Homo sapiens: one gene and its partners. The protein of the gene in region 1 interacts with the protein of each later gene in a pairwise test. Each region holds a gene or a part of one and is shown on either strand. Other genes may lie near its edges.

Region 1 (7,026 bases):
TGTAATTGAGCTTAGTGCAAAATTTAAGAACATATTTTAAATATTACTAACTCTTACACACACACACACACACATATATATACCATACGTAATTTCATTAGTAAGTCACTTGTTTTAAAGGACTTATTAATGTACTACAAAAAATTTAAATCACTTCTTTTTCTTTAAAACTGTTACAGGGGAAAATATTTTAATAGTTTACTTCCACATATCCTTAACCTTAAATGAAAGTGTAGTTCCAAAGGGAAATCAGTCGAGAGAAATTATTTTGTTTTTGAGGGAAGATTTTATTTTTAGTTATTGCCATCATGGAATTACTGTAAAAAGAATAAGTTATAATTCACCTGTGATGACCTTAAGATCAAAAGTATTTTTAATGTCTATAGTAATTTTGAACAAGGCATGTAGAATCTTCTATCTCCTTTGGCATAATAATATTTTGAGATTGCATAATCTGTTTAATATCATACCACAATAAAGTATAAAGTTCTGCACCAGCTTCCCCAATCCATTAGAGCTTAATTTTTTTTTTTTTAATGCATGGCAATAAAATCTAGACAGCCATAAGGGAGGATATTCAGATGTTTTCAATAGCTTTGAAACAGACAAGAAGAAGAAGGCAAAAAAAAAAAAAAAAAAAAGAGTAGCTGTCCCAATAAGCGCGTCTATTGCGTAAGAAAAAGCTCTCCCATAATGGACATGGCAAGATTTAAACAAAAGACGCACATAATAAAAATGTAAATGAGTTTGCTTTACTAAAACTATAACTTTAAAGTCTTTTGTTGTAAGTTATCCTGAAACCTTCTTACAAGGTAATCACTGTTTGCATAGAGATTTAAACCAAAGTCTTCAATAGCATTAAACGCCTGCACAGACCCCGTGTGACAAGCATGCAAAGCCATGTTAATGTTCAGAATATGAATTGCCTCTGGGTGGCTCCTCCACCAAGCAGAAAACCAACTGTGTGGATATCCGTGTGCCTGATGGACTCCATGCGGCTCCCAGCCTGAAAACGTCACCACTTTGACATGTGATGTGCTCCTCATGACACTGGCAGCACTGACACTGGGAAATGCCACAAAGGCAACAAGCCCCCCTCCTTAGCCATGCACTCTGCCACCCCCTGGCGCTGCCCGTCCTGGTCCCCCCAGCCTGCCTAGTTACAGGCGGACAGCACTTCAGACACACACAGAGGGAAGTGTGGGTGGAGGGGCCCCAGCTGCCTCCCCGGACACAGCCTCCATAATGAATTGACCTGAATGATGAGGGCACACAAACAGTATGATATGCATTATTCCTGTCAATAAAATGTCCCCATGTGTTGAGGTCTTTGTACAGAATGTACTGGAGCCTTTCTTCCAGCAAGCTCTATTTAGGCTCCTTCCTTTTTACTATTCTTATAAGTGTGTAATAGAATTCAGAAAATTATATGATAGCTTTTCTGTATCTGTATTGTCCTTGTCTTGCATATTTAAATCCTTGGCTCCCTGCTTAGGAATATGGCATTCTCCATCTTTTAGGAATCTTTTGCCAAAGAAACCAGCTCTCCAAAATCAAACCTAGAAAAGGAAAATTTGGAGTACAAAGTGGAAAATGAGAGGCTGCTTCAGATCATTTCAGAGCTTGAAGAAGAAATCCAGATCAATCTAAAAGAAAATTCAGGATTAGGTAACATTTTGAAATCACTTTTGAGAAAAATCTGTATATTGGTCACTTTGTAAAGCTCATAACTATGTTTGTCTTTTCCAAACATACATTCGTTTGGTTATTTACATTTGAAAGATGAATTTCATAGCCATCTTTGCTTTTTATTAAAGATAGCACTTCTTGCTTGGGACAGAGGATGTGTTTGTAGTTGTACCCCTGAGCCATGTCACGTTAATTCAGGGTGTTGTTTCAAGACAGACATTGGCCTTTGCAAAAATTTGCTAATCAATGCTCCATTTCACTTAGAAATATTATAGCCAGATAGAAACTTTTGCTGATTTGTTTCAGATGCTTAACTGATTATCTAAACTTGATAACATTTAAAAACTTAAGAATACATATAGGGATATGCTTTGTAGGGAAAACAGAGTTAGCCCTTCAGGAAAATATGCTAGTACTTACTAGTTACTTCAATTTTTGATGCAAAGCTTAAATACACAATTTCATTTGTATACTTAATACCTCTTTTCTTTCATACCACAAACATTGGTGAAAGTTGTGTTTAAATCACCGAAGTTGTTAGAACATGTGGAAAAGAGAAAAAAATAATCACCAAGGTGAGATTGCTCTAACGTATTTTTTCATTTAACTGTGATCCGAGTGATTATGTTAATTACATGATGTTGTCCTTAATCTGCAGTATTCAAAGCAATGAGCAGGCAATACAATGAATTATAGCAAAATATCAGTAAAATGAGATATATTATATTAATATTATCCCTTGGATGTAAAATTCTACCATGCCAGTATAGTCTCATTCTCTTCTGCTGTGGCATAGCAAGGCTTTTTAGTTTTGGGTCGTTCTTATTAAGTCATAAACTGCCACCTGCTAAAGCTCTTTGTATTGGCTGTGACCAACAGCAAAAATGTCCGTCGCTAGTATTGATGAAAAGCTTTCAGCCCTCAGCCACACTTGGATCTTGAACTTACTTCTTAATCCCTATCTGACCGGCCATCTGAACAGCAGGAAGAAGGCTGCGAATGTCAAGGGCAGTTGTGAAGGTCACAGTCCTGCTAGGCCTTGTGTCCACTATGCCTGCTAGTGCCCCACAGCCTGCCCTGAAGCAGGCCGTTTAAATACAGGGGCATAAGCATGTAATTTCATGGTTGGCCTCTCTCTCCTTTTGTTTACAGAAGATGAACTTATAAGTATGAAAGAGATGGCAGAAAAGGATCACAAAACTATTCAAAAGGTACTATAACGTTTTACGTTGATAAATGACTCTTTTAAATGGAACTATAGGCGCAATTGGCCAAATAACACTGTGTCCAGAGTGTCTTATGACATAGAGGAAAGTTGATTCACATATTTAATCTCTCCCCACTATTTGGGAAGGGTGACTAGAAGCAAATAAGGACTCCACCTTGAAAACTCACGGATGTATAGATACTTCTTTTGTTTGGGATCACTGACCATCTGCCTTGTTGATTTTAAGGCACCGAATAGTTACATGACACAGAGAAGTCTGAAGATGAGCTTGCAGTTAAGGAAAAAGTTATATTAAAAATGAACAGTCTTATTTTCAGATCAGATGTTAGTTGATGTTCATGAATGAGCTGGGCTTATGTTATCTGGTAAATATTTAGAGCAGGGAATTCTTTTGGTAGAATAAAAATCAAGATTTCCAAGGTGGGGCGCAGTGGTTCACACCTGTAATCCTAGCAGCTTTGCAGGCCAAGGTTGGAGAATCTTCTGAGCTCAGAAGTTCAAGGCCAGACTGGAAAACATAGTGAGACCCCTTCTTTATAAAAATTAAAAAAATTAGCCGAGTGTGGTGGCACATATCTGTAGTCCCAGCTACTCGGGATGCTGAAGTAGGAGGATTGTTTAAGCTCAGAAGTTCGGGGCTGCAGTGAACTAGAATTGCACCACTGCACTTCAGCCTAGACAACAGAGTGAGACCCTGTCTGAAACACACATACACACACACCACCAACCCCCACAACAACAAGATTTCTTAGCTCATTGAATTGAATGCAGTAGGATCTCAGCAATTCCTGCTCTCCCTGCACACGTGGGGCTTCCCTACTCTGTTCTCATTTATCCGCAAACTTCCCTATTGTGGCTCTCAGTTACCATTCTGTTATGGTCTATCTTCCCTGCCCTACTGGAGGCTCCATGAGGGTGGAAACTGCGCTATCTGGTCTCTTAGTGGGGAGCACGATGCCTGAGGCACTGAAAAATACTCCAAGAGATGAATAGAATAGGAATGCATTTACAGTTCATACAGTTTACAGATAAACAAGCAGATTCACATCCCCAAGTTATTCCAAATAAACATAAATATCTTCCAGTAACTGAACCGAGTATCCATTTTTAAGTTAAAATGGATTAAAATCAGACAAAATTAAGAATTCAGTTTCACAGTTGCACTAGCCACATTTGAAGAGCTTAGCCACCACATGTGCCTAAGTTTAGGTTCAGATTTCAGCCAGGCCTGATATTGCCATTCAAGATATTCTTTTTTTAATTTTTAAAAATGTTTTGTCTTTTATTTCTTCTAAAAAAATGGGATACATGTGCAGAATGTGCAGGTTTGTTACATAGGTATATATGTGCCATGGTGGTTTGTTGCACCTATTGACCCATCCTCTAAGTTCTCTCTGCTCACCCCCCAGCCCCCCAACAGGCCCTGGTGTGTGTTGTTCCCCAATCTGTGTCCATGTATTCTCAATGTTCAACTCCTACTTATGAGTGAGAACATGCGGTGTTTGGTTTTCTGTTCCTGTGTTAGTTTGCTGAGGATGATGGCTTCCAGCTTCATCCATATCCCTGCAAAGGACATGATCTCATTCCTTTTTATGGCTGCATAGTATTCCATGGTGTATATGTACCACATTTTCTTTATCCAGTCTATCACTGATGGGCATTTGGGTTGGTTTCATGTCTTTGCTATTGTAAATAATGCTGCAGTAAACATATGTGTGCATGTCTCTTTATAGTAAAATGATTTACATTCCTTTGAGTATATACACATTGATGGGATTGCTGGTTCAAATGGTATTTCTGGTTCTAGATCCTTGAGGAATACTCCATACTGTCTTCCACAATGGTTGAACTAATTTGCATTCCCACTAACGTGTAAAAGTGTTCCTATTTCTCTGCAGCCTCACCAGCATCTATTGTTTCCTGACTTTTTAATAATCGCCATTCTGACTGGTGTGACATGGTATCTCATTGTGGTTTTGATTTGCATTTCTCTGATGATCAGTGATGTTGAGCTTTTTTTCACGTTTGTTGGCCACGTAAATGTCTTCTTTTGAGAAGTGTCTGTTCATATCCTTTGCCCACTTTTTGATGGGGTTGTTTGTTTTTTTCTTGTAAATTTGATTAAGTTCCTTGTAGATTCTGGATATTAGACCTTTGTCAGATGGGTAGATTGCAAAGATTTTCTCATTCTGTAGGTTGCCTGTTCACTCTGATGATAGTTTCTTTTGTGCAGAAGCTCTTTAGTTTAATCAGATCCCATTCGTCAATTTTGGCTTTTGTTGCAATTGCTTTTGGTGTTTTTGTCATGAAGTGTTTGCCCACACCTATGTCCTGAATGGTATTGCCTAGGTTTTCTCCTAGGTTTTTATGGTTTTGGGTTTTACATTTAAGTCTTTAATTCATCTTGAGTTAATTTTTGTATAAGGTGTAAGGAAAGGGTCCAGTTTCAGTTTTCTGCATATGGCTAGCCAGTTTTCCCAGCACCATTTACTGGATAGGAGATCCTTTCCCCATTGCTTGTTTTTGTCAGGTTTGTTGAAGATCAGATGGTTGTAGATGTGTGGTGTTATTTCTGAGGTCTCTGTTCTGCTCCATTGGTCTATATGTCTGTTTTGGTACCAGTACCATGCTGTTTTGGTTACTGTAACCTTGTAGTATAGTTTGAAGTTAGGTAGTGTGATGCCTCCAACTTTGTTCTTTTTGCTTAGGATTGTCTTGGCTGTACAGGGTCTTCTTTGATTCCATATGAAATTTAAAATAGTTTTTACTAATTCTGTGAAGAATGTCAATGGTAGTTTGATGGAAATAGCATTGAATCTATAAATTACTTTGGGCAATATGGCCATTTTCATGATATTGATTCTTCCTATCCATAAGGATGGAATGTTTTTTCATTTGTTTGTGTCCTCTCTTATTTCCTCATTCAAGATATTCTCAGATTTTAGATAAAACTACTTTTAAGAAGTATTTTTCAAAGAAATGGTTACCCTGATTGGTCAGAGGTGGGAGATGTTTCCCTGATAACTGAATCCCTCACAGATTTTCACAAGGGGAGTTCATTTTCTTAGGCTTCACCCTATTTGCAGTGACAATAATGTAAATTCCATTTAACCTTCTTGGCATCAACCTCTAAGGTCAGAAATGAAATCTCAGCCTTCTAGTTTCACTTAATAACCAACCAGGGAACCATCACCAGTTTTTCCATTCCTCCCTCCTTTCCTCCCTCCTTTCTCCCTCCTTTCCTCCCTCCCTCCTTTCCTCCCTCCCTCCCTCCTTTCCTTCCTCCCTCCCTCCTTCCCTCCTTCCCACCCTTCCCTCCCTTCCTTCCCTTCCCTCCCTTCCTTCCCTTCCCACCCTTCCTTCCCTCCCTCCCCTCCCTCCCTTCCTTCTTCCCTCCCTTCCTTCTTTGCTTCCCTTCCCTTCCCTTCCCCTCCCCTCACCTCCCCTCCCTCCCCTCCCCTCCCCTCCCCTCCCCTTCCCTTCTATGTCTCAGTCTCACTCTGTCCCTAAGGCTAGAGTACAGTGGTACAATAATATCTCACTTGCAGCCTCAAACATCCAGCCTCAAGCGATCCTCCCATCTCAGCTCCCAGAGTAGCTGGGACTAAACAGGAGTACCACCACACTTGGCTAATTTTTTATTTTTTTATTTTTGCAGAAACAGGGTCTCCCTATATTGCCCAGGCTGGTCTCAAACTCCTGGCCTCAAGTGATGCTCCCACCTCGTCCTCCCAAAGTGTTAGGATTACAGGTGTGAGTCACTGCACTGGGCCTGGTTCTTTATTGAAAATGTTTCTCAAGCTCTTCAGTCTGTATACCACTGGTAGAAATGAGTAGCATGTACTTCTGACTCTCTATAAGGAGTACAATAACAAATTAAAGCAAAAAAACAAAATCTCACTGGTAAGCCACCAGTTGATGGCTGGCTATATCTGTGAGTTTAAATATATCAGTTAAGTGCTGCCTCAGCTTTCTAAATCTGCACTGTGCCATGGTGGCCCTTGGCCACATGTGGCTATTGAGCACTTGAAATGTGGCCAGTGCAAGTGAGGAACTAAGTTTTGATAATTTAATTTCCAATTATTTAAATTCAAATTTAAAAACTCATT
Region 2 (7,026 bases), on another chromosome or scaffold:
CAGGTGTCATTGCTGGGTCCCCTGCACCTCCAGAGTTGATCCGAGCCATCATCAACAAGATAAATATGAAGGACCTGGTGGTGAGTGGTGACTGCGGCCCGGGCTGTGGGCAGGCCAGGCCTGGGATGACAGCAGATGGACAGACATGGGGATGAGTCCAGGCCAGATGTTCAAAGGAGACCCTCTCAGCCAGCCCTCCTTCCAGAAAGCAGATGTGAGAAAAGATAGTCTGACCTCATCAGCACCTGGTGGGTGAAGGAGATAGGTGGCAGGGGAGTAAATATAATACATACATACATTTATATTTATAGAAATCTCAGGAAGAAATTGCAGCATGGGAAGATGGACAGCAAAGCACCGATGTCCTGCTAGAACGTCCTGGCAGGTGGGGGCTGGCAGAGTTGGGGCATGGGCTTTAAAACCCTTTCTGGAAGCAAGGGGTGGGGCAAGGATCTGATGATTGTTTCCACGTGGCAGGGAAAGAGGAACAGAGGAAGGATGATCCTGGGAGGGTGGCCATCCTGATGACCAACCTGTTGTGGTTCTGATTGACTTGGGGGGGGGGTCTCAGCAACAGCTTCTCCAAGAGGAGCTGGAGGGTGGGGAAGGCATGAAGGCTGGGGAGAGGCTCAGCCTTCCTTCTCCCCAGGACACTGCTGGGTGGAGCTGGGTTGGTAGTGGAGTGCCCGAGGCCCCCTGCCAGGACGTGTCTAGGTGTAGGCAGCTCTGTGCATCAGCAGAGGCTGTGGGGAGAAGGTATGGGTGGAGGTGAGAAGGTCAGTAGTCTCTCCGGTGGAAGGCAGAGGCCAGTCACCAGGACTGGCTGGGTCAGAACCTGCAAAGAGGCAAAGATCGATGTCAGTACTCCAACAACACAGATGATGCTTGAAGAAAATGGTGGAAGTCCTGGGCAGGACCTTTTCCTCCCTTCAACAGGGGACCCAGTCGTCCCCTCCTCTCTCTGTAAAAATGGAGGGTCTGCCTGACCCTCCAGGGCCAGGGGGTATCCTGGAAGATACCAGCTCACTTGCTGGAATCACCAAAGAGGGACATAGGGGACCTGTTTACCTGGCCCCCACCTGTTTAATGGCGGCCAGCTTTCTTGGACCTCTTGGTGGGGAACTTGCAGCTGCGGAAGGCGTCCGTGTCACGGATGTGCTGGCCCTTGAACTTGGCAGGTGAGGCACAGGTGGCATCTGGGCGGGAGGCCTTGGCTTCCAGCCACCTGGAGAGACAGAAACTTGCTGGGGCTGGGGAAGAAGGTGGGAGTGCTGGGGGGAAGGGCAGTGAACTATGGGGCCAGGATTGACTTGGCCACAGGATAGTCTGAAGCTGTCATCTTCATTTTACAAATGGGGAAACTGAGGCTCCCAGGGTCCCATGCTTATTAGGTAGCAGATCTAGGATGCATGTCCAACATGTCTTAGTGCAGGGCTAATGTGCCTCTATCACATGAGGGTGGGCTCTGGGAGTGACATGGAAGTGTTCTTACCGCCGAAGGCCCCGGAGCTGGCAGGTACACTTCCAGGGGTTATTGGTAAGGGCGAGGGTCTCCAGGCTGTCGAAGGGGAAGTTGGAGGGTAGCTGGTTCAAGCGGTTGTTCTCCAAATGGACGTGTTTCAGCGTGGTTACACCCAGGAAGGCACCATCTGAGAACTGGGGAGCAAGGTGGGAGCAAGGTGGGAGCAAGGTGGTCATGAGTGAATGAGTAAGCACCCGAGTGCCAGAGGGGCAGGATCCTTCCCTGAACCTGAGCCATAGCACTTTGAGGAGTTTCCCAGTTTTCAAAGCAGTATGACCAAGTGATCTCAGATAATCCAATCTACACAACCCCCTTTGAGACAGATGGTGTTATTTTCTTTTTTTTTTTTTTTTCCTTTTTTTTTTTTTGAGATGGAGTCTCACTGTGTTGCCCAGGCTGGAGCACAGTGGCACGATCTCAGCTCACTGCAAGCTCCGCCTCCCGGGTTCACGCCATTCTCCGGCCTCAGCCTCCTGAGTAGCTGGGACTACAAGTGCCCGCCACCATGCCCGGCTAATTTTTTTGTATTTTTTTAGTAGAGACGCAGTTTCACCATGTTAGCCAGGATGGTCTCGATCTCCTGACCTCGTGATCTACCCGCCTCAGCCTCCCAAAGTGCTGGGATTACAGGCGTGAGCCACCACGCCCAGCCAGGTGGTGTTATTTTCAATATGCAAATGGGGAAACGGAAAAAGCGCAGTCCTTTGCCCTGGGTCACAGCAGTGGGTAAACAGTAGCCACAGGACCACACCCAGCTCCTCTTCCCCTGGCACCACAATCCCTGCACAAACACTGGGACTGTGGGGCTGCCAGAGTTTGGCCCCAGCAATCCAAACTGGTACACGGTGAACTTGGTCTGTGCTTGGTGGAGTGGGCAGTGGGCCCAGGCTCCCCACAGTCCCAGGGTCCCAGGACTTCCCTCAGCTCTGTCCTCACTGCTCCCCCACTGCCAGCCAGACGCTATTTGTGAAGCCACCTTGGTGGAGCCTTTGGCCAGGTTGGACGGCTCCAGAGGAAATGTTCTATTGGTGCCCACACCTTTGCCCAGGCGCCACAATTCCTGTCTGGCCTCCCCTGCCCCAAACCAGCCCCTAATTCGCTGCTCTGCTGCCCACTGAAAGACCACTCTGGCACTGGTGGGCCACAGGGGACTCCAACTTCAGCTGGGGAGAGGCAGGGCTGAAGAAGGGCAGGCTTGAGCAGGCTCCTTCCACCCAGACAAAGGTTGGCTGCTGCCCAAGTGAGATTCTGCCCACATCTCCACACCCGCACCCTTTCCTGTGGCCCACATTGAGGTATGAAGGTCTCCAGTAACCAGACTCTCCTCTACCTTGTTGGTTCCCCACCCAAACCTCCTGGCTGAAGCCCCTGTACCAGGGTGATTTTTCCAGTCCCAGAGAAGGGATTCTGCTCTGATCCAAGGTAGCCCCACCTGGCCAGACACTGGGCACCCCAGGGGAGAAAGGAATGAGTGAGGATGCAGACAGGAGATGGGTCTAGTGACGGAGGAGGGCAAAGGGCAGTTAGCAGTCTGGAGACAGTGAGTCACGCCAGTCTTCTCTGTGGAGAGACACCTGGGGTCTTGGGCCAAGGATTGACAATAGTGGTCTTGCCTTTGCCCCTTCACGGAGCCCATGGGCACGATGCTTGCATCCTGGGGGAGCCCTTGGTCCCACGCCTACTGAGCTGCAATGGACTTGAGAATGCAGTGAATTGTGTCTGTGTGGATTGGGCAGGGCCATCCACCAGGGCCTCTATGGGGCATGGAGAATGTCTTCCTCAGGCATTTGCTTCCCCTCACTCCCCAGTCCCCCACTCCCCCTTAGCACACATGCACAGCCCCCACCAGGAACAGGGTCTCTTTGTGGGCCTGATCTGCCCAGCTCCTCTGGAAGGCTCCTCAATAAACAAACCTTCCTTTATGGGGTGGTAGGTTTACTGGAGACGGGAAAAACAGCAGAGGAGGGGTGGAAGGCCCAACAGGAAGAGGTGGCTGCTGCTCACAGTTGGGGGTTTGGAAGCACTGGAGATGGCCCTAGGGGGCCTTTTGTGGGGCCAGGGCAGTCCCACTCCTTTTATATGTAAGAATCCTAGGAGGGCAGTGGTCGAGACTGGCAGCAGACAGGGATTAGGGTAGGGATGTGACAAGGCGAGGAAGGGAGGTGGCAGAGCTGCTCACCTTGGAGATAGCCAGAGGGACAGGGAACCTGGGGACGGGGGATGGTGCCAGCTGTGGCCCTGGCTCCTGGGGCCTCCAGGAAGGGAAGAAGGAACCAGGGCAGAGCCCACAGCCAGGAGCTCACCTTCTCCAGGTTGGTGTTGTCCAGCCAGAGGGTCTCCAGGTATCTGCCAAAGGACTGGAAGGCATTGTCCGGGATGCTTTTCAGGGGGTTGTGGGACAGCTTCAGCTCCTCCACCACCCGTAGCTTGCTCAGGGCAGCTGAGGGGTAGCTGGACAGCTGGTTCCTGTCCACGTGGAATTTGGCGAGGTTCTCCACGTCGTCCAGGGCCCCGGGCTGCAGGGAGCTCAACGCGTTTTCCGACAGGTAGAGCCAGCGCAGGTCCTTGGCTCCCTGGAAGGCGCCTGCGCGCAGCTCACGGATCTTGTTGTTGTTGAGCTGCAAGATGAAGAGGTTGACCAGCGGGGAGAGCAACCCCCGGGGCAGCTCAGTGACCTTGTTGTGGTCCAGGTAGAGGTAGGTCAGCTCGGTCAGGTCGTCGAAGGCACCTGCGCGCAGCACGCGGATGTCGTTATGGGACAGGTACAAGTAGATAAGTTGCTTGAGGCCGCGGAAGGCACCGGCGGCCACCTCGCGGATCTGGCAGTGCTGCAGGTGCAATGACACGAGGTTCGGCATGGCCCGGAACGAATTGGCAGCCAGCACCGGGAAGTTGTTGCGCTGTAGGTTGAGCAGCTTGGTCTTCTCTGACACCTTGGGGATCTTCTGCAGCCCCACCTTGTCGCAGATGACGTGCTGCAGGTCGCTGTGGCAGTGGCAGTTCTGGGGGCAGGCGGCCAGCGCCGGCAGCAGACCAGCCAGGAGGCCGAGGCTGAGCAAGAGCATTGGGCGGACCATGGCTGGGACGCCTGGGGCCGGGGCTGGGGGCAGCAGCGGCGGCGGGGCGCGGGCAGCGGCGAGTCCTAGGCGCTCGGGTCTGCCGCCCTCTTTATACGGTGGCCCTGACCGCAGCCGGCAGCCGAGCCAGCTCCTACGTGGAGCATCGAGGCCACTGGGCTTAACTCGCTCGCGCCCAGAGATGCGCCCCCGCCCTCCACGGGGAAGGGGGCGGGGCCGTTCCCCCAGCCGGCTACCGTGCATGAGGGGGTGGGACCGTGGCCCCCGAGCCCCGAGCCCTGAGCCCCGGCTGTAGCCCCCCGCTCTCCTATGGTGCTCCTCTGCCTACCGCCTTTCCCGGGGCTTTTCTGGGAAGGGGGAATAGTTATGTCTGGAGCCCCGAGTTTACATCGGAGAGAGGGAGGCGTTCCCTCAACTTATTTGTTTGCTCAGGTTTGAGCCTCCACGCCGCGCCATCCACACACGCTCGGCCGGGTGCCCTGGATGCGAGGCGGGAGGAAGCGGGGCCGGACAGCTGGATGCGTCTCCCTGCGGTGGGCCAGCTGCCTGCGCTTTAAAGGGGCGCTTGTGCGGCGCCTGCCGAGCGTGAGAGCCGCCCCGGCGTCGGTCTCCCACTTCAGACTCGACGCGCCGAAGCTGGCCCTGGGTAGACCCGAGCTCCTTCCCCACCCTCGGGCGCGCCCCCACCCCTCTCTTCCAACCCCGCTTGCGTTTCTGTCGCCGGCGCCCTCATCCCCTTTTTCCACCGCTGAAGGCTAAGCAGAGAAGTGGGAAGTGGGGGAGAGTGGCCCACAGGAATGGCAAACACACCTGGAAACCACAGGCCACAAGCACAGTCGCACCATCCCCCCTCCTTCATCGCCCCGAAATATCTCCATCCCTCATCCCCAACCCTAGTGGTCAGGACCCGCCCCTGAGGGGTCTCAGGGTGGCGGCTGAGTGGCGCCGAGGTGTACTTGGCAGATGCCACATTCGGGCGGTGGCCCCAGGACTGTGAGGAGGGGTGCGGGAGGGGGTGGGGCAGGTCGAGGGACCAGCCCTGGACGGCTCTGGCTGCCAGACCCTAAGTTCTGTGGGCAGTCCCGCCCCAGCCCGCCAGATTTCTGTGTGCCCACTTGCCAGCCACGATGTCCGGATTCCTGTGGAAAGGGGAGGGTGAGCAGGCAGGGTCACAGCTCTGGCCTCAGGGTGAGCTCCAAGCTGCCTGGCACAGGATATTGTCTGTGATGAGGGGTGGAAGGAGAAACCAGAACCCACATTGAACCAAACCCCAGCCGTGCCAGAGCCAGAGCAGCTGATATGGGGGAAGCTTGGTGCAGGGAGGAGGATGGATGAGATCTGGTATCCGTTGATTAAAGGGGACCTAGGATACGGGGTAACTAGCCTCTCTTCCCTTACCCAGTACCCTCGTGTTGGGGCCTGGTTTCCAGGGCCTGCCCTTTTCCCAAACCTCTCTGCCCCTTGCCTCTAGGATAGGAGGGTCATACTTGGCCTAGACCATTCCTTGATGGTATTTAGGCTTCTCCAAGGCTGGCTTCTGGTTTTTCTGTTGCTCAGGCTTTCCAACCACTGGAAATGGGGGAGGTGGGGTGGGGGTACCACTGGTTTTTAAAATCACTGCTTAGGTTGTTTTTTTATTTTGATGGAAATAAATTCACGGGAAACTCTCCAGAGCTTGGGGGACGCCTGCCCCAAGGCCAGGCACTTGTTCAGGGTTTGCAGAATGCGGGGGTGGGGTTGTGTCTGTGCCACTCCTAGCTGGGCCAAGGCAGGCTGGCTTTCTCATCAAGTTTATGGGGCCTTCAGCTTGGAAGGGAGGAGCCGGGGATGTGGCCTGAAATCAGGAAGGTGGGGTTAAGGCAGCCAGGGGATGGGGGGAGAAGTGTGGGGTGTTGGTAATACCGGAGCCACAGGCACAGACAGGTGGCTGCTCCAGGGAAACGGGGCACTGAGAGAGCTCCAGCTGGAAGAGAATGGTGTCCCTGCTCTCAATTTTCTTTCAGATCTGGGGCCCTGCAGAGATCTAGTCTGCTCACTCCCAGCACCTCTGCCTCCTGACCCCAGGCCCCTACCAATGATGTCTCTGTTTCCACCATTCGGCTGCCCTCCACTTTCCCTTTTCTTTTATGAATTCCTTCCCATTTCCTCAGATAGCTCACCTGATCCCTCTGCACGTGCTGAGCCCTCTTCAAACACCCTTTCTGGACCCTCTAGGTTGCTTATGGAACCACAGAGAACAGTCCCGTGACATTCGCGCACTTCCCTGAGGACACTGTGGAGCAGAAGGCAGAAAGCGTGGGCAGAATTATGCCTCACACGGAGGTGAGCCCCTGACCAAGACTCCAAAGTCCCACCTCCCGTCACCCAGCTGGGGTGCACCCAGCTGGGACATCGGTTGCTTTCAGTGAGAGAGTCAAATGGCTCACT
Region 3 (7,026 bases), on another chromosome or scaffold:
TATGGATATAGACTGATCAGCTGGTAGACTGTGACTGACTGAAGCCTGGCTGCTGTGATTGGCTAAGACTTAGCTGTTTGTTATAAGGATATGTTGTTAGGTTGCAGTTTGCTACATAGGAACTCAAAGTACAGAGGCAGTCTCAGGCCAAATTTAGTTTAACTATATGTTAAGCTGCAGGTGACAGAATACCTCCATCTATAGAGGTTTAAACAAGGAAAGGGTTTATTTTTTCCTGTATAGGCAGCTGGATGTAGGCAGTGTAGGGTTTGTACAGTGGCTACAAGAGGCCAGGAGGGGTCTCAGCTCTGTCTCATTCTCTTCCTGTTCCATCATTCTTAGCCTGTGACTTCATTCACATGGTTGGTTGTCTCATGATCACAGGATGGCTGCTCCAGGTGCAGCACTACTTCTGTATTCCCGGATTCGATCTATATACCCAGGAAAGCCATCTGGGTTCTCTCCTTTAAAAAGCATTCCTGGAAGCCCCACCTGTCGACTTCCCCTTATGTATCAACCATGTGTATGTCACTTGACCAACCCACTTGTATGTTGTTTGACCAGCCCTGGCTGCAATGGAGAGTGGGAAATACAGTTTTTTCACCAAGTGCATGGCTGTCCAAATGAAATGAGACTTCCATTAATAAGGAAGAAAGGAAAGATGGAGATCAGGAAGCTGGGGGATCAGGGAACTTATTACATTGAGAGCCCTTGGAGTGAATTCTCTTGCAAATATGTCCCTGGAATTGAGAATCCCCACAACGTACTTTATCTGTTCTTTCTTTATCCATGAGTTTGGGTTTTCAGATGTTGGATTTCCTATATGGGGGGCATGTGAGTTCATCATCTTCCATAATCAATGTTGTATCAACTGGATTTTCTCTCTTCTTCTCACCAGCCTGGAGGAGAACCATCTCCAGGATGAAGGTGTATGTTCTCTCGCAGAAGGACTGAAGAAAAATTCAAGTTTGAAAATCCTGAAGTAAGGAACCCATAAGCAGGAAACAGGACAATAATTGCTGGCCTTTGGAAGGGGCATTTCTGAATAAGATCTGGGCCGCTCTCCGCTGGGCTAACTCATGTGAGGTGGCCTGGTAGAACAGCTTGCCTTGGTCTAGGTGGACAAGGATTCCAGTGCAAGTTGTTTATCTGGGAGGTGGTCCCAGTAAATGCTGATAGGAGAGTGGTGAAGTGAGATGGGGAAGTGAAGGTAACCAATAAAGGGGAGTTATCAAGCCAGTTATCAATGAGGGAAATTGGAGCTCAGTACTCTGGGGCACTCCTGGAGCCAGTGCAGAACACACATGGTCACCTACCCAACCAATGGGCAAGAAAGCCATGGCATTTATCCACCAACCCTCTGTCCTTCCTATGTTGATGTGCGCTCATGGGGCACTGATTCTCCAGCACTTCCAGCTCACCCTCACCCAGCTGAACATGCTTCTGGGGTCAGGAGAATGGCCTCAGGCAGAGAGTGGAAGGTCTTCTCTGCAAGCAGTGGCTGGGGAGGTGATGTGATGGGGAGTACTGTGGCCTCCTCCAGTGGCTGACTCAGTGGCTTGGGACTTGTGCCACAAAGAGATGGACAGCTCAGGTGAACATGAACCCACCTAGTGACCATCATGGGTTTGTCAGGGTGCTCTCTGAGGCTGATGCCAAAATTCTTATTTCAAGTAGACCTCAGGAACCCCATCAGATGGCTCCTTTTGCTGGAGGAAAGTGGCATCTGCCTAGGCAAATGTGGTCCTAGGAAAACGCTTGCCTTTAGAGACAGACAGACAGACAGCTGCCTCTGTGAGTGCCAGCTTTGCTGCCAGGCTGCTACCCACTCTGGCGACACTCATTTGTGTTGCTTTCACAAGCTAGGAAGTTTCCAAATATTTGGAGAAAACACTTCCACTAATTATTTGGGTGGAAATGGGCTGGGAAGTTGGGGTGAAGCCCGGATGTGTCTGAGCCAGATGCCAGCTTTGCACTGAGGGTCGGCCTTTGGGAATACCAAGCCCATTATCAACCAGGTGTGGATATGGCAGGTTTGTCTTCCCTCCTTGTCACAGCCTTACTCCACTTGACTCCCATGGATGCCAGGCAATGAGGCTGGGGTTGGTCCCATGCCACCCTGTCATCAGCCTTATTTTTCAGCATCCTAAACTATATCATCCCCCACAAAAATTGAACTTCTGATATATCTTTTATAAAAAAGAGAAATGCCTACATCTTTCTTTTCCAGGCTTAGTTTCTGCCAAGAGTTGGTTGAGAGCCCAGGCTTGCTGGGTGCAGTGGCTCACACCTGTAATCCCAGCACTTTGGGAGGCTGAGGCGGGTGGATCACCTGAAGTGGGGAGTTCCATACCAGCCTGACCAACATGGAGAAACCCCATCTCTACTAAAAATACAAAATTAGCCGGGCGTGGTGGCATACACCTGTAATCCCATCTACTCAGGAAGCTGAGGCAGGAGAATCACTTGAACCTGGGAGGTGGAGGTTGCCATGAGCCAAGATCACACCATTGCACCCTAGACTGGACAAGAGAGAAACTTCCATCTCAAAAAAAAAAAAAAAAAGGATGAGAAAAATAATAATTTAAAAAAAAGAGTCCAGGCTCTGGAACCAGACAGCCTGGGTCTTACCCCTGCTCCACCATTACCAGCCAGTTCTTCTTGGATGAGTGCCTCAGTTGCCTCAAGTGTAAATGGAGATAATGGCTGGACCTTCATTATAGGCCATGAGCATTCACTGAGAGAATGTAGCTAACAAAAGTGAGTTGTAGGTTGGAGCAAAAGTAATTGTGGTTTCAGACCATGAACTTTAAATTATTATAACTAGGCTAAAATACATCTTTATTAATCAAAATAGGAACCATTAAAATCAACACATTTTTGCCAATAAGAAATAAGTTTGTTTATTCCTGTAGCATAAAAATTCATGCTTCGGGATTCAACAAACTCTTGGAAAGCATTTTCTGCATCCTCCTGGTTGTGGAAGCATTTTTCCTGCAGAAAGTTGTCAAGATTCTTGAAGAAATGGTAGTCAGTTGGCTAGAGGTCAGGTAAATATGGCGGATGAGGCAAAACTTCATAGTCCAATTCATTCAACTTTTGAAGCTTTGGTTGTGTGACATGCAGTCGGGTGTTGTCGTGGAGAATTGGACCCTTTCTGTTGACGAATGCCGGCTGCAGGTGTTGCAGTTTTCAGTGCATCTCATTGACTTGCCGAGCATACTTCTCATATGTAATGGTTTCGCAGGGATTCAGAAAGCTGTAGGGGATCAGACTAGCAGCAGACCACCAGTGACCATGACCTTTTTTTTTTGGTGCGAATTTGCCTTTGGGAAGTGCTTTGGAGCTTCTTCTCGGTCCAACCACTGAGCTAGTCATTGCCAGTTGTATAAAATCCACTTTTCATCGCACGTCACAATCAGATCAAGAAATGGTTCGCTGTTGTTGTGTAGAATAAGAGAAGATGACACTTCAAAATGACGATTTTCTTGGTTTTCACTCAGCTCATGAGGCACACACTTATCGAGGTTTTTCACCTTTCCAATTTGCTTCAAATGCTGAATGACCATGGAATGGTCGATGTTGAGTTCTCAAGTAGTTGTAAGAAAATCAGCTTTGATGATTGCTCTCAATTGGTCATTGTCAGCTTCTGATGGCCTGCCAGTACACTCCTCATCTTCAAGGCTCTTATCTCCTTCGCAAAACTTCTTGAACCACCACTGCACTATACGTTAGTTAGCAGTTCCTGGGCCAAATGCATTGCTGATGTTGTGAGTTGTCTCCGCTGCTTTACAACCCATTTTGAATTCAAATAAGAAAATTGCTTGAATTTGCTTTTTGTCTAACATCATTTTCATAGTCTAAAATAAATATAAAATAAACAGAAAGTATTAAGTCATTAGCAAAAAATCATAAAGTGAGAATTGTGCATTAAAATGATGTATAGCATAACCACATTTATTTAAGAATGTATTCCAATATCAAATGGCAAATTTCAACAATGCAAAAACTGCAATTACTTTTGCACCAATCTAATAGAAGTTCAATAAATACTGGCAATTACAATTGGCATTGCCTTAGGGTCAACTTGTAAGACATTCCTGAAATTGTGGGAAAGGGGGAGGACCTGGAGTGGACATTATTGGAAGGCAAAGCTGTAACCAAAAGAGCAACCTGGGAAACACATGACTCCTCTGTTGCTGTCCCTGGCCCTATCCTGTCTCCCCTCCCTGTTGTCAGCTACCTCATATGTTCTCTAATCTCTGTCTCTGTGCCCTCAAAGACCCCCCTGAAAATAGAAATATTACTGCTCATTGGTTATTTTCTATCAATTAAGTACTGTATTAGTCCGTTTTCATGCTGATGATAAAGATATACCCAAGACTGGGCACTTTATGAAAGAAAGAGTTTTATTGAACTTACAGTTCCACGTGGCTGGGGAGGTCTCACAATCATGGCTGAAGGTGAAAGGCACATCTCACATGGCAGCAGACAGGAGAAGAGGGCTTGTTCAGGGAAACTCCCCTTTTTAAAACCATCAGATATCATGAAACTTATTTACTGTAATGAGAACAGGATGGGATTCAATTACCTTCCACTGGGTCGCTCCCACAACACGTGGGAATTCAAGAGATTTGGGTGGGGACACAGCCAAACCATATCAAGTACTGTGCAAGTGTTTTAGGCATGCAGAGAGTGGTGGGTCTTCCCAGCAAGCAGAGTGTGGGGAGGTAATGGGGGACTGGTGGCTGACTTAATGGCCCAGGACCCATGCCACAAGGAGATGGATGGTGGATGTGAATAGGAGCCTGCTTACACCCATCACAATTTAGATTCTTATGCTCGATGGCACGGGTACTCTTTTAGGCCCATTTTACCAATGAGGAGATTGGGACTAATTTGCTCGAGATCAAAAAAGAAGTGGTGTAGGTGGGATTTAAACCCAGGATGTCTAGCACTAAAATGCAGGTACTTAACCACTATCCTAAGGGAGTGGCTACTTAATTTGATAAACTCATCTAGTGAATGGAAGAGAGACGGTTACATTTCACTGATGGTACTGAGCCTTTGTTGATGAGCTCATTGGGAATCTCAGACATGAGCAGGATGTGTCTAAGGGACAGGTGGGCTTCAGTAGACTGGCTAACTCCTGCAGTCTCTTTAACTGGACAGTTTCAAGAGGAAAACCAAGAATCCTTGAAGCTCACCATTGTATCTTCTTTTCCAGGTTGTCCAATAACTGCATCACCTACCTAGGGGCAGAAGCCCTCCTGCAGGCCCTTGAAAGGAATGACACCATCCTGGAAGTCTGGTAAGGCCCCTGGGCAGGCCTGTTTTAGCTCTCCGAACCTCAGTTTTTCTATCTGTAAAATGGGGTGACGGGAGAGAGGAATGGCAGAATTTTGAGGATCCCTTCTGATTCTGACATTCAGTGAGAATGATTCTGCATGTGAAGGATCTGATTCTCTGTCTAAGAAAGAAGTCTTTACCTCTTTAAGTAGGGAGCAATGATTTCATTTTTAAACCTTGACTATTTATTCAGCAACTTCTCTGCTCTATGAGATAGTGTAGGAATGGGGATGTGGTTGAAGAATGAAAAGAAAAGTCAGCTCCCGCCCTCCTAGAAATTGCATCTGCCTTCACAGGTCAAGGATATTGGATCAGACCTTCTGCGGTTCTGAATGGAGATTACACAGGTTAGGAGCAGGTTGCACAGTGTTTCCAATTCTCTATAATTAAAGCCATAGACTTTCATGTATTGAAAAAAGCAAGAATTGCATTCTTGACAGATTCTTTCATTGCCTTAAAAAGAATGACTAGCCTTGGGAGTCTGGGCAGCTGGGTCCAGTGTTGTAGACTTTCTCTCTGCTGAGCCACAGCTTCAAAGATTTGTCCTTCTTGTTTCCAGGGATCTATTTCTCAGACAATAAGTAAAGGCTTTCCCTGGCCTAATGTGCTGTAAGTGAATGCTACTATATATGTTCCAGGCACTGGGCTAGAGACTAATATTTAAAAGCCAGGAAATTTCCTATAGAAAATCTATATCTCAGGGTTTTCTCAAAAGAGCTGGGAACTCTGGATGCCCATTCATGATTCCAGTAGTTAACCAGAGTACAAGAAGGGCTGAGTCTTCTCAGATGGGCAAACCCACTCTGGCTGACTGCAGATCCACCAAGCCTATTGTCTTAGACCAGGACCCTTTGGCAACTCATTCCCATAAGCCTGTGACCCTTGCTTTAAATATGCAGGCCTTGTCTTCTCTCAAAAAGCACATCAAGGCTGCAGCGAATGCAGATATCAAATGATGAAGTTAAAAACAAAAGCTTTGCTGGGCGTGGCAGCTCACACCTGTAATCCTAGCACTTTGGGAGGCTGAGGCAGGAGGATCACTTTAGGCCAGAGGTTCAACACCAGACCTTGTCTCTCAAAAAATAAAAAATTCAGCTGGGTGCGGTGTAGTTCCTAGCCACTTGGGAGGCTGGGATGGAAGGATCCCTTGAACCCAGGAGTTCAAGGCTGCAGTGGGCCATGATTGCATCACTGCACAGGCGACAGAATTAGATCCCATCTCTTAAAAAAATAAAAAATTTAAAAGTGACTTCAAAAATCTATGCTGTGATGGAGAGATTTTTCCTTCTGTATGATTGTGATAGCTCTGTGGCCTATGACGTCATCAGGTTCTGGGCAAAGTGTAGGTTTTCTGTTTCTTTGTTTTTGAAACCATTGCACAGTCCTAAGAAACATCACATTCTGGGTCCTGGGCACCAGCCAACATGAGGTTGATATTTTAAGGGGTCTGATGTTATTTGCTGCCTGTTGATGGAACTTGGGAGGGCACCAGGGTTTGCTCATTGCATTCTTGACAGATTCTCTTATTGCCTTAAAAAGAATCACTGGCCTTGGGGAGTCTGTGGCTGGCTGGGTGCAGTGTTGTGGACTCTCTCTGCAGAGTCATGGAGCCTTGTTCAGAATGCTTCCTGAGCTGCCCTGGTTGGCCAAGGGTAAAAACAGCCCTGACTTCCCTGC
Region 4 (7,026 bases), on another chromosome or scaffold:
CTAGAATCTGGTATTTCTTCTTAGGTCGTAACTGTCCCCCAACCCTGCAAGCAACCCCATCAGATAGAAAATGGGGTTGGAAAGATTTAACTAACAACCCTTAAAGGACTATGAGCATTGTTATTCTGGGATGGAATACCTCTTCTCTGTTCACAGTTAGCTTTGGTGAGAACAATCAAAATATTTGATAAAACATATGGCTCAGGAATTTGACAGTTTTTCTTTCTACAGAAACACAACTCTTTAATATTTACTGCTTAGTCATTTCCTATGTACAAAATGATCTTAATTAAAATAGAATTCCAATTAAACCAAGATTTTAAAAAAGTAGCCTTTAAGAATATATTTATTTATGGCTTTTTAAAATCTTTATCAATTGCTACTAATTCTTTCTTAGATTGTCAGTTTATTCTGAGTACTTCAATACTTTGTAAATCTTCCCAGGTCATGTTTGTGATAGAAGCTTGTATGGTAAACACACACACACACATACACACACACCATCTTTTTTTGTTGTCTCATTTTATACTTCCATAGTGATGAGATATCATGAACCATTTCAATTGTAATAATGGGCCTTCTCAGATATGACAAGACCTTAAATGTATTTTTCCTTCTAATCCAGGGAACTGGACTTTTTTTCTGTTTTTCATTTGTGTGTGTGTGTGTGTGTGTGTGTGTGTGTGTTTTCTAAAACACCAGAAGCTACTTTGTCTTCTTGTTAGCTGTAAGAAAGCCACCAAAGAAGTAGGATACAGTATATATCTGGCATTATTATCCTTGGTGTGCTCTACCAATCAAGTTGAAATTTACCTAAGCCCCAAAGATATCTCCATGGTTACCCTGCCAGTGCTGGGCCTCTTTGGCTTTAGGCTGATTTAGCATAAAATGAAAGATCTCTGGCGTTGCTAACTAGGTAGTTTTTCAGATTCTAGCTGTAGGTTTCATTTCTTTTTGAGTATTTTAGAATATAGCAACTGGACACTCTTTTATATAAAGACTGAGATTTGGCTTCTTTCCAATTATTCTGGGATCATCTCACAATGGTTATTGACAAAAAAGTACAGAACTATTCCATGAAAAGGCATCTTGCTTCTGGTTGTATCCGTCCTCAATATTACAATGTTCTGTGGCACACAATGGCAAATTCTTGGATTTAAGAGCAGAAAGGGTGTTAAAAGTCATCTAGTGCGTTAATGCCACTTTAGAGATGAATAAATAGAAAGGAATCAGGTTTACTTAGCTTTAAATGTTTTCACTAATAACTTTGTTCGTTCATTCATTCATTCATTCATTCATTCATTCATTCATTCATGGAACATGGAGAGCCCCTGCCCTGTGTGGATTCTGGAGCTACAAAGTATAAGCACAGCCCTAGCACTTGTGGACTCCCAGTCCATTGGAAGAGGAAGACTGACAAATATCCATTATACCGAGGGAAACGTTATATCATAAAGGCACATTCAAAACACTCTGAGGCCACACCTTTGATTGTAGATGAAGAGTTGACAGAGGAAGCAATAAACATTTCCTCATAAAAAATGAGTATCGGGCAGTTTAGGGAGAGAAGTCATCCTGGGCAAAACAAACAGAAGTCAGGAAAGAGCACAGTCACTTTGGAAAATGCTTAGTGTGTCAGTGAGACTGGCACATAGGACTTTACAGCGAGGAGTGGTAAGGAAAGGCTGAGTTCTCATGGCGCGGCAGCATTATTGCGGACAGCTCAGACAGCTAGGTATTCAGTGAGGACAAAAGGCGGGAGCTCCGTGAGTTGCTGTTGTCCTGAAATTAGTTCCAAGCTGGTTGATAAATAGCCACCGATCTGAAGCCCCTTCCAGTGTCCTTTTGTACCTCTAGACCTCCTCAGACCCAGTGATACAGCAATTAAAGTGTTTACACTTTGCAGGAAGCCTTTAGGATCCCCCCAGCACTAAGCCCAGTTGGATGGTGCTGATAATTATTATTATTGTTTTTTTGAGCACTTCTCCTCTTGTATGCCACAGTACAGAATTTGAACTTTATCCTATAGGGTGGGGCTTGGAAATTCAAATGCATCCAGGGGTCGGGCAGGCTACATAGAAATGAGTGAAGCGAGTGGATTGTAAACAACAGGGAGAGGTGAAGATTATATAGAGTTGGAAACATTCAAATTAATTTTTAAAAAACGCTATATCAACAAACATAAATGAGTAGTGATTTTGACAGCACCAGTGCTCAAACTTTGCAGTTTAAGTAACAGGGAATCATAATGGCTTTTTTTCTTTAAAACTAGGAGAATGATCAAAATTCATTTTTTACAAAATTTGCCATTTTGATGAACTGTCAATTTTTGTAAAAAATGAATTTTTTCATTTTCGTTTTGATGAACAGAGATTATAGAAACCAAGGGGATATGAGGCCAAGAATATGAGCTGTACTAATTTGAAGATTTGGACAAGAAGATGCTGGCTCAAATTCAGAGATTTTGGGTTGCATATGAAAACAAAGTTTTCTACCAAACATCACATATGCTCACTCAAAAGTGGGAGTTGAACAGTGAGAACACATGGACACAGGAAGGGGAACATCACACACCGGGGCCTGTGGGGGTGTGGGGGGCAAGGGGAGGGAGAGCATTAGGACAAATACCTAATGCATGTGGGGCTTAAAACCTAGATCCAGATTGATGGGTGCAGCAAATCACCATGGCACATGTATACCTATGTAACAAACCTGCACGTCTGCACATGTATCCCAGAACTGAAATAAAAAAAATTAAAAAATTCAGAACAACAACAACAAAAAACTCAAAGTTTTTTTGTGTGTAATAGAATGATGGAAGAATTATTAAGGAAAACATGTCATTTCTGGCTTAAAAAGTTTAAGGTACCAAAAAGATGGCCGTGGGAGCTAAAGCCACTGGAATCTCAGAGAGAACCTTGTAAATCTGTGACGCACTGAAGCTTAGTAACTTACACAAAATATTTGCAGAGAAAAAAAAAACCCGAAAAACTTTGAGTGGCGAAATGGGATGTAACAAATGGCAAAAGGATCTTTACTGTTGTTACTATGCAGGGAACTTATGTGATAACATTGTTTAACATCTTTTTAACAGTTCTGGATAGAATTTATCCATCAACTTAACCAATTTACTGAGTACATAATATATGCTAGGTGTTGTTTTTTGCATGATTTTTAATAGGATTTGTTATTGAGAATTCACTATGTGCTCAGCACACTTCTAGGCAATGGGGATAAAATAGAGAACTAAACAGACAATCCCTGCCATCCAGGGAGCCTCCATTCTAGAGCAGGAGACAGGTGTAAACCTCATATAAAATCAGGTTATGGTGAGCAAACAGAATGAATTGAGTCTGGGTAAGAAGAGCATATGAAGCGAACTAGGTATGTAGTATGTGAGGGAACTAGGGTGTGGGGAATGAGATAACTGTACAAAATATGATGAAAGAGAATCTTTGGAGACCAAAAGCTAACGGAGTTTGGAATGGAAGAAGGTAGTGTTGAAGAGAGAAATTCACAATCCCCCATGTTGTGAGTCTAGAGTGATGAACGCTTGTAGCAAAGTGATACACTAGGTTTGGATGAGCTGAATTTGAGATTTTAGTGAGACATCCAAGTCTATCAGTATTTCTCAAACTTCCGTGGGTGTCAGACTCACCTGGAGTACTTGCCAAAAATCCCAAGGTTCAGACTAGGCCCTTTTCCTTCAACCAGCCTGGGCCTTTGTGTTCTTTATTAGCTCACTAGGTGTTTCTGACACACCAGAGTTTGAGAATCATTGGCTTTGACAGCCACAGATACAAGCCTGGAAAGAAAAATTGAGCAAAGGCTGGAGATGTATATTTTGGAGTTTCAAAAAGGTGTTAATTGAAATGTAGGGATGGGCCTACTCTTGCAGCTGGTGAATATAACAGGGAAGGGAAGCCATAGGACAAGTTTTGGTTGTATACATGTAGGTGGTGGGAAGACAAGGAGGAGCCTGAAAGAGCGACACATGAATTATTCAGCATAGGGGGGAAATGTGGAGAACTCAGTTCCCCTGTAACTGAAATGTGGGCTGTATGGAGGCAAAGCCCTCAGGATTACCTTATCCCTGGCATTGTGCCAGCATTTAATAGATAATCAATATTTGTTTATTGAATAAGTCAATGCATCCATGAATGGCTAATAAAAAATTTTTAGAATGTAAGTAGTCATATCACATGCAGTGGCTGAGGTCAAGAGACTAAGGGATAGCTAGTAGATTTAGTTAAAAGGAAGTTATTGCTATACAAGATATTGGGTAATTAAGTTTAAGCAGTGTGTTAGGCCCTCTAGTCATTTGTAACGTTCATCTTGAGCTGTTGATGAACACTGTAATAGCAATAAGATATATACACACATAATATACACACATATGTGTATGTATACATTGTATGCACATATACATGTAAAAGTATAAATATTTAGCTCTGGGGTCTTCATAGTGTCCTGTGGTTCTGTTGATATCCTGGAGCTGCTTCCTTCAGGCTGTAAATCTTGTGGGATGAAGTGTGATTTAGGAGTCTGAAAGATTGTGGAGAGCTATCTATCTTCGGGAGGTTGGAACATAGACAAAAGCAATGAGATTCCAGGGACATGTCTTCAGTAAGCTAGATAATCCATTTGCCACCCTCAGTTTTTCAGCGATTGCTCCCCAAGAATAGATATGATTTCTAGAGATTGCATAAAAATATAAAATCCTATTTTAAGATTTGTTTAAAGCTTTTTAATTCCAGACACATACTTCCTTTGCAAGTATAAACTTTAGTGTCATAAAGCAGAGATGCTTATTAGTCAGCTCTTTGGGATCTGCAGGTTTGTAGATGAAACATCTGACCTTTTTTGCGTTTTGAAATGTCATGCCCAATTGGATCTTAATGAAGATTCATTTATCCTTTTCACACTGTTAAGGATGGTCTATGGGGATAGACTTCTCTCAGTCCACGTGAACAGAACCCATTACTGCTAATGGAAGTTTTCCACATGGCTATGGAGGTGAATAGGCATTGAAATAATCTACATCTAGACTTTCACAGTCATTTTTATGTAACTATTTTAAGATTTTCCTGATGATCCCTTTTTGTGCCCAAATGCTGTTTGACATCGTCTGTAGGTATCTGGTGATGGGTCTGAGGTTGTAACTTTAACAGGTGTAAGTATTTCTTTCCTCTGTTTCAGCTGGAAGTTTTGAGAGTGAAATATTCACAGCCATTAAGAGACCTCCAAATTAATTTCTCAACATGCTTATTCTATAGTTCACATTCAATCCAGAGCACTGAAGGAACTGAACAACTGGACACTGTAGACATCAGATAGCTGGCCATGGTGTTGGCCATGGCGTCTCAGGATGTTCAGAACTTCTTCCAGCCTTTCTCTTCCTGGATATCTCGGGTTTATGAAGCTCTCCAGCAAGCAGGAGATATGTTATCTGCTTCGCTGGTTAACATAAGCAAACAAGACTCTAAATTGAGTGACAAACTAGATCAGGACTTAGATAATATTCAGATTCAGGAAACGTACTTTGAAGATGAAGAACAAGACAATGATTGGAGTCAAGAGGATGCAAATTCCTTGTTTCTTGAAGTGGATCATTTCTCATGTTGTAATAGTGATTTGCAGGACTCTGCCCAAAATTCAAGCCCAAGCCTTAGCCAACATGCAAAGGACTCATGTTCCACAATGTCCCAGTGGCCCAATTGGGCCAGTGATGACCGCAAGTTACCACATGTGCTTTCTTCTATTGCGGAGGAAGAGCATCACCTTGAAAAGCAAAGAAGTGGCCTTCAACATGGCTTTGACAGCCAGCTCCCTGGTACTTTAGAAACTGTTAATGGAAAAAAGCAAGGTAAGCTAGCCAGTCATCATTTTCTCTGCGTTCCTCCAAAGAGCATTTCTACTTATTTTATTTTGACTTGTTTTTAGTTATCATGTGGATTTTATTTTTCTCTCTCTTATACCTTCCCACATACTGGCTTCTGATTGAGAGATATAATCCTTAGGAATATTTTCAATATATAAAGCTTTGGAGGATCCACGTTTGGGAGTTCCATATTTCAAAACAATAGTTCTGAGCAAGTGAAATGGTGAAAAACGAGTCTGTGGATTCTGTTTGAGAAGCCCCTTGTGCACATGTCATGCTTTTAAAAATATCTTGCAAAATGTTCTTTTTTTCTTCTAGGTTAGGAATTTCTAGATGTTACTATATTATTCAGTGTGAAATCCTGTGCAAAAAGCCGTACTTATCGCAGAATTTTTAGTTGATAACACTCCAAGAACACTTCTCACAGTGTTTCACTGAGACGTGATGTGAGATGACAGTGGATAGGAAATCTCTGAAATAAGAATAGCTTGATTTTCTTTTAGCTCTGAATGGTAAGGACACATTTAATAAAAACTGCCTATAAAGATTTATGCTGTGAGAACTGAGCACATATTGGGCCTTCAATAAATGTATATTGAATATGATAAAAATGTAATTAACTCTCTAAAAGTAGCTGAGGTGTGTTCCAGCATGAATTTCTCATGCCTCTAATACTCTAACCTTGAAGTAAGGACATTCCACCTGGTTAAGGGACAGAGGTAAATGATATACACAGAAGGGATTTGGGTATGTGTGCATGGTGTGTAGTTGTAATGCACATATAAGTCACACAGATTGGTGAGTCATTTATGTGATCTAAAGACAAAGTTATTCAATGTCCCTCTTGCTGGAGAGAGCAGACTTTTCTGGAATACCTCATAGTCCCTTCATTCATTTTCCATGATTCCTATTAGCTTTGTCTTTTTAGGGAAAAGTTTTATCCAGATATATGAAGTCTTGGCATATAAAGAAACACAATTTCATATTCTTCTCATAATGCTCTCTTGATACTTTTATTCAAATTAAGGTAACATTGAAATGCTAGAATAAATTGGTGAAAATGAGGTAGGCTGATATTCTTTCTGAACCTGATAAGCTGTAGCTAATTGCAATTTTGAGTCTTTTAAATTGGCTATAGAAATATT

The links.
Region 2: the proteins of C10orf67 (region 1) and ACSF2 interact in binary tests that used the Homo sapiens proteins (3 or more experiments, as listed by UniProt).
Region 3: the proteins of C10orf67 (region 1) and NOD2 interact in binary tests that used the Homo sapiens proteins (3 or more experiments, as listed by UniProt).
Region 4: the proteins of C10orf67 (region 1) and SYT16 interact in binary tests that used the Homo sapiens proteins (3 or more experiments, as listed by UniProt).

The regions. Positions count from the first base shown.
Region 1 is NC_000010.11:23,285,774-23,292,799, reverse strand, and holds part of C10orf67 (uncharacterized protein C10orf67, mitochondrial), read left to right. Parts: intron 1-1,520; coding exon 1,521-1,668; intron 1,669-2,203; exon of another isoform or gene 2,204-2,233; coding exon of another isoform or gene 2,234-2,264; intron 2,265-2,841; coding exon 2,842-2,900; intron 2,901-7,026.
Region 2 is NC_000017.11:50,464,215-50,471,240, forward strand, and holds part of ACSF2 (medium-chain acyl-CoA ligase ACSF2, mitochondrial isoform 2 precursor), read left to right. Parts: intron 1-3; coding exon 4-80; intron 81-281; exon of another isoform or gene 282-311; coding exon of another isoform or gene 312-385; exon of another isoform or gene 386-1,083; coding exon of another isoform or gene 1,084-1,225; intron 1,226-1,492; coding exon of another isoform or gene 1,493-1,656; intron 1,657-3,825; coding exon of another isoform or gene 3,826-4,599; exon of another isoform or gene 4,600-4,666; intron 4,667-6,813; coding exon 6,814-6,921; intron 6,922-7,026. Other genes in the region: CHAD (chondroadherin precursor), read right to left, coding at 1,084-1,225, 1,493-1,656, 3,826-4,599. UniProt on the Homo sapiens protein: Acyl-CoA synthases catalyze the initial reaction in fatty acid metabolism, by forming a thioester with CoA. Has some preference toward medium-chain substrates. Plays a role in adipocyte differentiation.
Region 3 is NC_000016.10:50,724,591-50,731,616, forward strand, and holds part of NOD2 (nucleotide-binding oligomerization domain-containing protein 2), read left to right. Parts: intron 1-898; coding exon 899-982; intron 983-2,824; exon of another isoform or gene 2,825-3,860; intron 3,861-4,422; exon of another isoform or gene 4,423-4,560; intron 4,561-5,227; coding exon 5,228-5,311; exon of another isoform or gene 5,312-5,363; intron 5,364-7,026. UniProt on the Homo sapiens protein: Pattern recognition receptor (PRR) that detects bacterial peptidoglycan fragments and other danger signals and plays an important role in gastrointestinal immunity.
Region 4 is NC_000014.9:61,990,677-61,997,702, forward strand, and holds part of SYT16 (synaptotagmin-16), read left to right. Parts: intron 1-5,199; 5' UTR 5,200-5,343; coding exon 5,344-5,866; intron 5,867-7,026. UniProt on the Homo sapiens protein: May be involved in the trafficking and exocytosis of secretory vesicles in non-neuronal tissues. Is Ca(2+)-independent.